Linked DNA regions of Homo sapiens. The protein of the gene in region 1 interacts with the protein of each later gene in a pairwise test. Each region holds a gene or a part of one and is shown in the gene's direction. Other genes may lie near its edges. The genes, in order: ERCC6 and DCLRE1A.

The links.
Region 2: the proteins of ERCC6 (region 1) and DCLRE1A interact in a two-hybrid assay, tested with the Homo sapiens proteins (one study listed by BioGRID).

The regions. Positions count from the first base shown.
Region 1 is NC_000010.11:49,453,905-49,459,350, reverse strand, and holds the end of ERCC6 (DNA excision repair protein ERCC-6), read left to right. Parts: intron 1-116; coding exon 117-536; 3' UTR 537-4,881; downstream 4,882-5,446. UniProt on the Homo sapiens protein: Involved in repair of DNA damage following UV irradiation, acting either in the absence of ERCC6 or synergistically with ERCC6. Involved in the regulation of gene expression.
Region 2 is NC_000010.11:113,851,017-113,858,317, reverse strand, and holds the start of DCLRE1A (DNA cross-link repair 1A protein), read left to right. Parts: upstream 1-4,235; 5' UTR 4,236-5,135; coding exon 5,136-5,595; intron 5,596-7,301. Other genes in the region: NHLRC2 (NHL repeat-containing protein 2), read right to left, coding at 3,268-3,445. UniProt on the Homo sapiens protein: May be required for DNA interstrand cross-link repair. Also required for checkpoint mediated cell cycle arrest in early prophase in response to mitotic spindle poisons.

The DNA.
Region 1 (5,446 bases):
CAACCTCACCACCCTGGCACATGTGTTGTCTTGTGACCCTTCACAGCCTTTGGGGAAGGAAGTGGGGGCATAAACTAGAAATTAAATATATCAGTATAGTGGTCTTCTTTTTATAGGATGGCATCATGAAAAAGGAGGGAAAAGATAATGTCCCTGAGCATTTTAGTGGAAGAGCAGAAGATGCAGACTCTTCATCCGGGCCCCTCGCTTCCTCCTCACTCTTGGCTAAAATGAGAGCTAGAAACCACCTGATTCTGCCAGAGCGTTTAGAAAGTGAAAGCGGGCACCTGCAGGAAGCTTCTGCCCTGCTGCCCACCACAGAACACGATGACCTTCTGGTGGAGATGAGAAACTTCATCGCTTTCCAGGCCCACACTGATGGCCAGGCCAGCACCAGGGAGATACTGCAGGAGTTTGAATCCAAGTTATCTGCATCACAGTCTTGTGTCTTCCGAGAACTATTGAGAAATCTGTGCACTTTCCATAGAACTTCTGGTGGTGAAGGAATTTGGAAACTCAAGCCAGAATACTGCTAAACAACATTGCTTCCTAAACTTTCAAGTCCCTTTTTCTAACGGGCATTTCTGATTATTAATTTATTATTAATAATCATGTTTGTCAATGGAAGTTGGCTGCACTTGATGTTTGTTTGCATGATGTCTACCTCAGAATTAAAACTTTAAGGAAGAAGAAACTCTTCTCTGAAAGTTAAAAGTTTTAATAATGCTAGCTAAAGGAGAAAATACTTGGATTGATTTTTTTTTTTTTGGCAATCTAATTATATTGTAAATCAGGTACCTAACAGTTACTCCTTGGAGCACATTTGTTCCTTTACCCAAAAGATGCTGTCAGGGAGCACAGTTAGAAGTTTGCAGAACAGAAATCTCAATATTTTTTTTTATTGGTGCTAAAAACAGGTCTTACATTCAGTCAGACCTGTTCAATAAGTTCATCAATATCTGATAACAGCATTATTTTGATGCTTAAACTTTAAACATTTATATTTACCATTTGCCACCCACAAAGGTCAGGTTTGTTATTTGTTGTTTGATAATTATATTAATTTTCTTGGAAAGATCCTCTTTTCAAGGTACTGGTAAATTGGTGAGTATTTTTATTAGTAAAGCATGAAATAGTATGGTAATAAATGATAAGACATGTATTTGTGGAAAGCTGTAGGGTATTCAGTTTACCCTGGCTTTCCTTTAAGCAGAGGGCATCTTTTTCTCTCCTACAGTCACAAAATGTGTTATCATTAAAAAAAATCAAATTAAAGCCAAAAGTAGGTACATAAAAACCACACACATGCATGCACACAAACATCACTGCAGCCCACAGCAGACCCAGCCGTTGTTACCATGAAGTGACACCACTCCAGGCCTCTCTTGTCTGCAGGCTGGCAGGCTGTCTTCTCTCCAGTTGCCTTCGTCTTGCGCCTGCCTTTGCATTCCTTGCGACGGGCTTTCTTGTTTCTGCGGTTTGGATTCCAGCCAAGGCTGTTTGTATCTCACTACTGTTTATGTGTTTGTGGTTCTGTGATGGTGTTGCTTTGATCCTCAGTTTATTTTCTTACCCATGTTTTTCTTGTTTCCTTCTCAGGATGATTTTATCATCTCATCTTTGAAGTGTTGTTTTCCGAAATTCATCGTATTCCTGAAATTTCTTCTTAGCTGTCTTAGTGCAGTTTGTTTCTTGGATTTGTATTCTCTGGCATGCTCTTTTCCTCTCTCTCATTTTTCTGTAGTATGCCTGCCCTCCTACCCTGCTATTTCTTTACATCTCTCTCATGCTTAACATGGATAGCTGTGTCCAGATCTTCTGTCTGCTCATCCATGTGACTCAGAGAGGAGGGTTCTGGGCAGGGGGGCCTTGCCGGACTGCATGAGAGGACATGAGTTTTGCTTTCTCTGCTCTAATATTTTGCTTAAGCCAAGAATCCTTTTCTTAGAGATGTTCTATATGATTCCTGTCAGGATTTTCTAGTTTTTTTTGGATTATAGCTTGTTCATTTCTTTTGTTTTTAGTTTGGTTTATATATAATGAGGGAAGAAGATGATTACATTATTTTTGTCACTTTGCCATCATTGTTTAGAAGTCATAGAAAGAATTTTTAAATAGGCCAATAAGTCTTAAACTTGAGTACTTGGCTTAGAAGAAAGTCAAAACTCCTTCCTTTTTGACTAAGTGGTTTGTTTCTGGGGAGCTCTTAATTTCTATTTTTATAATCATTAGCCTATAAGGAAATTGTGTCTTCCTTGTTCTCAGGGTGATCTGCTGACCTTGTTCACTCATGAAGCATTTGGGTATCATACTTATAGTGTCTGAAACATAAACTGTATTGAGCTAGACAAGGTATAGCCTCCTCTTCAAGTAGCAAATACTATCAAAAGCTATAATGCAGTAGGAGCAAGGTGGTCCTTGTTCCAGTTTTTGTCTCAGTTCTGCTGCTGATGTACCATGATCTTGGGAAGGTGGTGTCTCAGTGTGGAGATCTGACACATTGTTACCGTGCCTCCTGGCTGGAGGGACTTGGAGAACAATGCAGTTAAGTAGAATGGTTTTAACAATACAGAGAAATTTATTCATTTAGATAAAAATCTGATTTTTAGAACTTTAAAAGCTTTGTACAGTGTAAATAGATTTAATGTATTTAACATGCTTTATCAGCACAAATAAAGGATTTTAAAATTTTGTCAAAAAATTAAATGTTAATACTATCACCATTAAAAATGTTCAAGCAATAGTCTGCCTCCCCACCCCCACACCATCTTGCACCTGTTCCACAGCTAAGTACAGCCCTAGGTTTGGTGTGTATTCTCCATGCATTTAGAGAATCACATGACACAGACTGCTGCTATAATGTCATTTTCCCATTCTTCCTTTACTAATAAAATTTTTGAGTTTTACCTGGACGTCTGGCTGCTCAGCTTAAGACTACTTCTCAGCCTCTCTTATAGTTAATTGTGGCCATATGACTAAGTTTTAAACTTCCCAATTGGCCCTTTAAAGAAGCAGGGTATGCACTCTCCTTGACATTCCCCTTTCTTGCTGGCTGGGAGGCCAATGGGAGCTTCAGTAGTGACCTGGCATCTCAAGAGATGGAAGTGATGTGTTGAGGAAGGAGAAGTTGGCCTGCCAGTCTTGAACTGCTCTCCTTTGACCTGTTATTTAAGAGTAAAATAAAATACTGACTTGCTTAAGCTACTGTCTTTTGAAGTCTATTATAGCAATTAGTTTGCTTTAAATATGTAATTTATATTAATGGCCTTATACCATCCTTATTTTGCAACTAACTTTTCATTTAATATTATATGCAAGACATTTCTATTCCTGTAAGTATAGCTCTGCCTGCACAGAATTGTTGGATTAATGATGTAGATTTTAAATGTCAGTGGATGTAGCAGAATTGCTTGCATCAATTCACCCTCCATAAAAGGACCCATTTCTCCAAACCCTTGCCAACAGTAAGTGGTATCAATATCGATAGGTTGTTTTGTTTTGTTTTAACCAGTCTCGTGATTGAAAGTACCTTGTTTTCACTTGAATTTCCCTGATTACGTACAAAATCAAACATTTCCATGTTTATTGGCCATTTGTAGATCTCTACCGTACATTGCCTATTAGTGTTATGTTGGCCTAGTTTTCCTGTGGGTTGTTTATCTTTTAGGATTGCTCCCCTAAACAAAAACAAAAAGGCAGTTATTCCAATGATCAACAAATATTCTTTTCTCCACCAGTTTAAAATGTCAGCTTTCAACTCATCACATGCTAAGTTGTCTATTTCTGTCCTGTGGATCCAGGTGTTGGTTCTACCAACCACACTCCTCACGCTGTCATTTGGTGCTTTGCATTGTGTTTTGCCATTCATGGGCAAGTTCCTTTTCCTTTCTCCCCCTCTTCAGTGTCTTATACTTGGGTGTTTTCTGTTCCAGCTGAATCAAGAATTAGTTTATTAAATTCCAGTAAAATTGTGGTGTTCTTTTGACTAGGATTGCATTTGTTTACACATTAATTTGAGAATAATAGACCTCTTTATAATTAATATAATGTTTCTGATTAGTGTTATGATAGGCCTCATTTTATTAAAGTCTTTTATATTCTTGGATGAAATTTTAATAACTTTCTTCATAAATGTCTTGCACATTTCATAATAGGCTTATTCCTAGGTGTTTTATAGATTTTTAGTTTTGGTTGTGAGTCTTTTAACTTACATAAAAATATGGAGAATTAGCATATTCACATATCTATTTTGTGATGTTTATCATACGGAAGTTTTAAAATATAGTAAATTCAGTCTTTCCATTTTTTTTTGTTTATTTAAGAACCATTCCCTAGCTAGGGTCATGAATACATTCTTATGAATTATTAATCCCATATGGATAGCTAGTTTCCCTAGCACCTTTAAAAAATAGTTTATTATTTTCCTCCTGATGTATAAGGCCACCTTTACCAATTTACATATAATGTACGGAAATGTTTCTTGGCTCTGCATTCTGTTAAATTGGTCCATTTATCTAACTTTGCTTAGTAACCCACTGTTTTTATCATTGTGGTATCATAATTGATTATCACAAATGGTAGAATGATTGTCCTCAAAGTCTTTTCTGGTATATATTGATATAATTGTATAGCTTTTCTTGGTGTAGTAAAGTACACAGTTAAATTTTCTAACATTGAAATATCTTTTAGATTTTCACTTCCAGAATGGCAATGTGAAGGGCCCTGTGGACCCACTGTCCTAGGAATTAGCTATAACTAGTGAAAATTGTAACAAAAAATAAACACCTTCCTCTCATACAGAGAGACACAAACACTTAATGCCACTGGAAATTGTCCTAAAAGCATGTAGAATAAAGTAACGCTTATTCAAGAAAATCCAAATCTTGGTAAGAACAGTGAGTCAGACATTTCAGCCACAACACACTCACTCCCTCCCTCCCATTTCAGTGGGTGCAGCCAAGAAAACAGAGCTCCGTCTCCCTCAGCTCCCTGTCCAGAGGTATGGTACCTCACAGGGAGGGGCAAGATGCCAGCATTTCTTATCCCCTCCAGCTTCAAGTGGCAAGAGCTAAATTCATGAAGTTAAAAACTATAATAAGGAAAAAATGCACTAAAGGGGTTCAATAGTAGATTTGAACTGGCAGAAGAAATTGTCAGCCAACTGGCAGATAGAATAAGAGAGATATGCTTTCCAAAGAACAGAGAGAAAAAAAATGAAAAATGAGCAAAACCTCAGAGAAATGTGAAGCACCATTATGTGCACCATTAAGTATGCATGTAATGGGAGTACAAGAAGAGCAGAAGAAAAAGGAAATATTTAAAGATACAATGACTGAAAACTCTCCAAATTGATTGAAAAACATCTAGGAAGCTTAGTGAACTTCCAGCATGATAAATGCAGAGGGATTCACAGACACATCATAGTCAAAAATGCTGAAATCAAAGA
Region 2 (7,301 bases), about 64 Mb from region 1:
ATCTTTATGACTGTAACTAAACAGGTATTTGGGTTTGGAAGAACATACCAAAAAGGCAAATTAGCAGAGATTAAAAGCCCAAAAAGGGAAGAAAGAAAAGGAAGGGATGGGGGTACGGGTGGGGGAGCAGGAGGAGTAGAGGATGGGAAAGCTGCTATTATGATGCCATCTGCAAATAAAGCAAGAAAAAGCTACTAAATTCTTTCAGAAATAGGGTAACAGTCTGTGAAAAGGAGTAAAGGCAACACACTTAGGCAAAAAAAAAAAAAAAGGAAGAAATATCAAATAGTAAATGAACCTAATTACATAAACAATTAGATACAAATGGGCTACTGAGAATAAAGGTCAAGCTTAAGAATAGTAAGATATAACTAAACATCAAAAAGGAGTGAAATGTGTGTAAGGATAAACATACAAAATGCCTAAAACAGTTTCCTAAAGGAGAAGAAACTGAAATATTCTGGATTTGGATGAGACCGTAAATACAAAATAAAATATGCTAAATGTAAAGTTAAGCAAAATACACTTATTATTGTCACAGATTTCATTGAGGTAACATTAATATTAATGAAGAACGTGTTCCCTTTCCTCCAAAAAAAGAAAGCTCTGTACTATGAAGAAAGATTTTGTTAACTAATAATAAAGTACAGCATCCCTATTTAACCAATTTAAGAAAACAAAGTTTACTGCTTATAAATAACTCAATGCAGCTATTACAACTATTAATTATGCCTTGAAGCAGGTATTTAGAATAGCTTTTAGCAACTGAAAGCCAAACTTGGGAGGAAGAAGTAAACAGTAACAGCTAATGATTAACAACAATAACTGTTGTTACTCAATCATAACAAAATTCTAGAAAAAAAAATCTGCAGATCAAACTAGTATTTGGGCCAATTAGTCCAAACTAATGAGGTTTCAGGGTACAGTGACCTCTTAATTATCCATTTTGTTAAAATATTAATTATATACCAGATCAAGTGATCATACAAAACTTCAGACTAATTAATGTATATTTCATATCCTACTTGCAAAATATTTATTAATCTGTCTTCTGTGACTTTTCTGTAAATAGTCAAGAGTGGCTTAGATCAGGGGGTATAGAAAGAATGACTACATCTTAGTCACCGTGCTAGATACTTACCAGGCTTAATAAAATTTATTTTACAATAACAATAATTACAATGAATACAATAAAAAGCTGCTAACATTTAGTAAGCTTTTCTGTGAATTAAGAATTTTACATATATTACTTTCAATACAAATAATAATCCTGAAAGGTAAATAATAGTTCAGTTTTGCAAGTGAGAAATATAAGGCTTTGAGGTCAAGTAACTTGCTCAAAATCACACAACCAACAAAATGGAAATAACAAGGATCTAATTCCAGGTCTCTGTGAATCTATCCATTACACTGCACTGTCTCCTATAAACATGTAAGTCTTCTAAGAAATGAACAAAGCATACAGTTTTTCAAATAAAGTTATGTTTATGACTTCCTGATTATAGTTTACTGCTAAAGAAACCAAGAAAACAGTCATTTCTAGCATTCTGTCCTCAATAATCGGGTCCAGGAGAAAATCATACTGTGTTAAACACAAAGCCTGAATATTTTATTATATGTTTTTTTAGTTATGAGTCACAGAGGTCAAATCTCATGGGAATAAAATACACTCCCTGTAAATACAAACAAGACTAGAAAATAAAAAACATTCCCCAAATCCCAGTTGATGGCCTGCTTGTTTATAACAGTGTACTTACTATATAACTACCTTCTGCACCAAAACTTTTTAAAATCATATATTTGTATAGATGTAAACAATCTTTTAAAGTTTGATGGGATAAGCATTCATGTACCCAATTCTTTTGTAAGAATTCCACAATATTTCAAATCCAGTATAAGATTAATAGCAGGAAAAATAAGCACTTCTCAAGGTGAGTAGTGCAAAAGACTTGGAAAGACACCAATACTCTGTTGTCGGAGGCAGGTTCCGATATACCTCCCATGAGATAACTGAATTCTGCCACATCCAACCAATTAACTATACATGTGGTTTCAGTGTCACGCCAGGACACATGCCAGCACCATCAGGCAAAGCAATGCTACTCCCATCCAAAGAAGGTAAAATACGTTTTCATTTATCATGGCAAGATATGCTTCACAAACATCCCTGCCGGGAATATCTGTTCCTTCATGCTCCAAAAGCTCACATGGCCAGGATTTAAACCCTGGAAATAGGCTATAATTGATTCCGATTTTTAAAAGTATTAGTTTCACGACTTTGAACGGAGAAGCACAGTACAGCTAAGAAACCAGCAAATCCAGGGCCTGTATAATCCAACTGGGGCAGTTATCAGCTGTGAGGCCCTGGGCATGTGACTTAACCTCTCTGTGCTTCCATTTCCTCAACTGTGAAAGGGGAATGATAGGAGCACCTCACTGGGATATAGAGGTAATTGAATAAGGTAATATCTCCTCAAGTGTTTAGGTATCCCCTCAAGTGTTTAGGACTGTGTGTGGCAGGCCGGGCGCGGTGGCTCACGCCTGTAATCCCAGCACTTTGGGAAACGGAGGCGGGAGGATCACTTGAAATCAGGAGGTCGAGACCAGCCTGGCCAACATAGTGAAACGCCGTCTCTACTAAAAATACAAACAAAACAAAACAAAACAAAACAAAACAAAACAACTAGCCAGGCGTGGTGGCGCGGGCCTGTAGTCCCAGCTACTCCGGAGGCTGAGGCAGGTGAATCGCCTGAACCTGGGAGGCGGAGGTTGCAGTGAGCCAAGATCACGCCACTGTACTCCAGCCTGGGAGACAGAGCGAGACTCCGTATCAAAAAAAAACAAAAAAAAACCCTGTGTGTGATACATGAAAAAGTGATCAATAAATGTCAAGATGATGCAGAAAGATGACCAGAAGACACTGGGGAACCAGATTGAATGGACAGAATGGTGTGGACGTTGCAATCATTGCCACCGGGGACACTAAATATTCACGGAGTGTCCACTTGGCTAATATCAGGCGCGGGCGGAACTCAGGATACACAGACGAGTATGTGGATCCCCGTGCCAGGGAAACCCCCGTCGGTGGCCGCTTGGGGACCCCTGGGAATTGCAGAACACGCGAACAGCGGCCCAAGTTAGGCGAAGGGCCACTCCCCGGGGCGCCAGCGGCACAAACCCGCCTAGCCCACCGCTTCGCGGGAGGGCGCCGTCCCCGAGGAAGGGGAGGTGCCGGGAGGGGCCCCCACCCCGACGCCAGCCCCTCACCTTCCGGAAACTCGGGTACTGACAAGTCCTGCTCCCAGCCGTCCACCTTCTGCAGATACTGGTAGACCAGGCTGTCCTTCTCCTGCTGGGTAACGGCGTCGAGCAGGGCGTACTCTAGCGAGGTCTGCGCGGGGAGCAGGCCGGAGAGGCTGCGGCCCCGGCCTCCGGGCGCCGCCATGTTTCCGCCGGGCTCCCGATGCGGCCGCCGGGCCCGCGGGAGAGTCTCGCTGGGAGAGACGAAACGTTCACTGTCCTGTGGTTTCCAAACGGCGCATTCACCTCACCCTCCACTAGCCCCACTCCACGCCAATGACACTTTTTTCTTTTTAAAGCATAGGTCCAAGTGCCAAAAGTCCAAATCGGCGCAGTTCCCGGGGACGTAATTAAACTGCCGTCCGACCCACCCCGCCCCTTTTCGGTCCCCACGCCGCAGCCGAGCCTGGACATTGAGAGCGTCAGATTCAACATGGAATAAGGCCTTAGGGACAGCGTCCCAGAGGCGCTAAGGGAAACATCCCCAACCCTCCACATTGGGAATTAGCGGACTTTCGAACACAAATAAAATACAATAAATCCGTAGGACTTAAAAGGGCAATGTATTTTTAAAAATTATTTTTAAAGTCTCTCTCTTTGAACAGCATCCGCCGATTCGACACGGCACTGGCAGCGGGAACTTGTTCCCGCCAAGACCCTAAAGGTAAAGCGGGTAGGGATAACCTCCAGAGAGAAGGCTTTGTAAACTGGAAGTGACTGGCGCGAGTGGCTTTCACTTATACACAAACACAGCGTTTTGTCATCTGGGAGTGCTGAAAGTGCGGGCGCGAACACATTTTTAGATGGGGGTGCCGGGAGGAGCGGATGCAGCTGGAGCGGCTCCCTTGGGGTGCCGAGTGGCAGGTGGGGGGCGGTGAGGGTCCTTGAGGGCGGGCCTTAGAGTCTTCAGAAGGGCAGGACTCTGAGGGCTTTTTGGAGCTCGCTATGCTTAACCTGGAGATGATTAAGGCCCCGCTTCCTGGCCTCCCAGCCTCTAATGCCAAAAGATAAGGGAGAGGCTGGCGTGTGACCCCGTTTTGAGTCAGGTGGACAGAGGGCTGGCCACCTTCGGAACCATGGGTGCAATACGGAGTCAGACCTCAATACAAGCCCACTCTTTCACATATTTGAACTTTTTTCACATATCAACTTTTTTTGTTCACTGTGCAGGGATTGTTCATTGCTGCTGGAGGAAGATCATGGACTGTCGCGGGAAACTGAAGTGGTTGAGTATCCACTAGTCGTGGATGAGGGCAGTGACTTCGCAGTTTTTTGCGAATTACACATCTCTTTGATTATGTTGTGACTAGTTTTGTTAGATAGTCATTTAGTGTTTGGGATACCTGTTAAGCCCTTTGTCCAGGGACTGTGGTTGGATTTATGAATTATTTGGACGGTTGTCCACTTGAAAGAACTGACAGTAGCTTCATAACAATGTTACAAATCTCGTTCTAAGATTAAGCTGTTGAACCTATATTTGCCATTAGCGCTTAATTTTTGAAGTATTATTTTTATGAATCAAGCCCTGGAAAAGGACAAGATATTTGAATGAAATAGCACCCATAATGGAGAACTTCACAGTTGCTACTCCTGTGATAGGTTTATCTTAGTTTCATTGTGGTATAAATGGAATAGCAGGTGTTGTCAGGTACAAGGTTTGTAGCTTGCCAATATGTTCATTACCAACACTGCAGATTCCCATTGAGTTGGTGGGGGTTTTGTTACCTTTGTTTTTTTTCTCAGCAAAATAATTCTATAACTTTTTGTTTGTGACAAGAAATGGACTTTCAGTTTACTTAAGATTAATACTTCTTGAATGATAAAATCATTTTGCCATGTTAGAAGACATTTCCGAAGAAGACATTTGGGAATACAAATCTAAAAGAAAACCAAAACGAGTTGATCCAAATAATGGCTCTAAAAATATTCTAAAATCTGTTGAAAAAGCAACAGATGGAAAATACCAGTCAAAACGGAGTAGAAACAGAAAAAGAGCCGCAGAAGCTAAAGAGGTGAAGGACCATGAAGTGCCCCTTGGAAATGCAGGTTGTCAGACTTCTGTTGCTTCTAGTCAGAATTCAAGTTGTGGAGATGGTATTCAGCAGACCCAAGACAAGGAAACTACTCCAGGAAAACTCTGTAGAACTCAAAAAAGCCAACACGTGTCCCCAAAGATACGTCCAGTTTATGATGGATACTGTCCAAATTGCCAGATGCCTTTTTCCTCATTGATAGGGCAGACACCTCGATGGCATGTTTTTGAATGTTTGGATTCTCCACCACGCTCTGAAACAGGTAAGACTGCAGAAAACGTAGTAGTTTCTAAATAATCTAAAAAGTCTTCATTAGGTCAGACATACCAATTCAGTGAAACAAGGAAGGCAAGCAGTAACCTAAAAGAGAGATGAGACACTGGGAAACACCATACCAGTCAACGGTATAATTGTAAAGCAAATGGCAGACTAGAAAACAGTTTAAATACATTGTGTTATTTCATAAAAGTTCCTAAGTATCTGGATTATTTTCCATAAATGTTAACTGAATCCTTACTATGCTGGGTACTTTCACACTGTCTACTTACCCAACTTTCACAATCACCATATAAGGTAGCTAGTATTGACATTTTATAGATGAAAGTTCTTAAAAGTCAGATAACTTGTCCAATTGGTTATTTATTTTTTTGAGACGGAGTCTCTCTCTGTTGCCCAGATTGGAGTGCAGTGGCGCTATCTTGGCTCACTGCAAGCTCCGCTTCCTAGGTTCATGCCATTCTCCTGCCTCAGCTTCCCGAGTAGCCGGGACTACAGGCGCCCGCCACCGCACCCGGCTAATTTTTTGTATTTTTAGTAGAGACGGGGTTTCGCCGTGTTAGCCAGGATGGTCTCGATCTCCTGACCTCGTGATCTGCCCGCCTCGGCCTCCCAAAGTGCTGGTATTACAGGCATGAACCACCGCGCCCGGCCCCAGTTGGTGGTTATTATGGAACTCCATAGAAAATTATAAATAGGCTGGGCACAGTGGCTCATGCCAGTAATCCCAGTACTTTGGGAGGTGGAGGCAGGCGGATCACTTGAGCCTAGGAATTCAAGACCAGCCTGTGCAACATGGTGAAACCCCATCTTTACAAAAAAAATTACCAAAAATTAGCCAGGTGTGGTGGGCTACTTGGAAGGCTGAGGTGGGAGGATCACCTGAGCCCAAGAGGTCGAGGCTGTAGGGCCCTGTGATCATGCCAGGGCACTCCAGCCTGGGTGGGGCGACAGAGGGAGACCTTGTCTGAAAAAAAAAAAAAAAAGTATAGATATAATGTGGTTTCTAAATATGGTTATGTTTTAGTCATCGTGCTATGTATACAGGAAGAGGAACTGTGAAGGAGTCCTAGGTGATTAAGATTCTAACAAAAAACGTGTCAAATGATAATAAAAGTATGCTATGTTTTTTATCTTTTAAAATATGTAATAAGTATTTAATGTAGAAAATCCTACTTGGAATACATATGGAGAACAGGTTGTTGTGATGATTTATATATTTTGAAATCATTTATATTCCATATATGGATTTTTTTAATCTGAAAAAGTTAAAATTCAGTAAAATAAAAAAATACTCAATATGGCTTTCATGTTAGCTATGATTCAGAATACATTTTATTATTAACCTGTAGTTATTTTAAAGTACTGCATGAAGATACAGAAAAAAAACAACTCTTCTTTAAATTTGGCATTAGCCTTTCCCAGAAAAGGATAGCAAGTGAAAACCTCACAAATTTGCTAGTAATTTTCTTTCATGTAACTTGAAAATCAAGAATGGAAATTGGAGTCCATGGTTGAAGACCTTAGGGTAAAATGTCATATAGATGAAGCCACCTCAAAAAATTTTTCTTTTGGTTTTTCACTAAACTCCTTTGAGTAGACTCTCAGATGGCTCTTGAATTAAATTCCATTCTATAACAAATGCTTTTAAGAGGCATTTTTAAGTTAGGTTGTAAGCCATGAAGTTTTCTA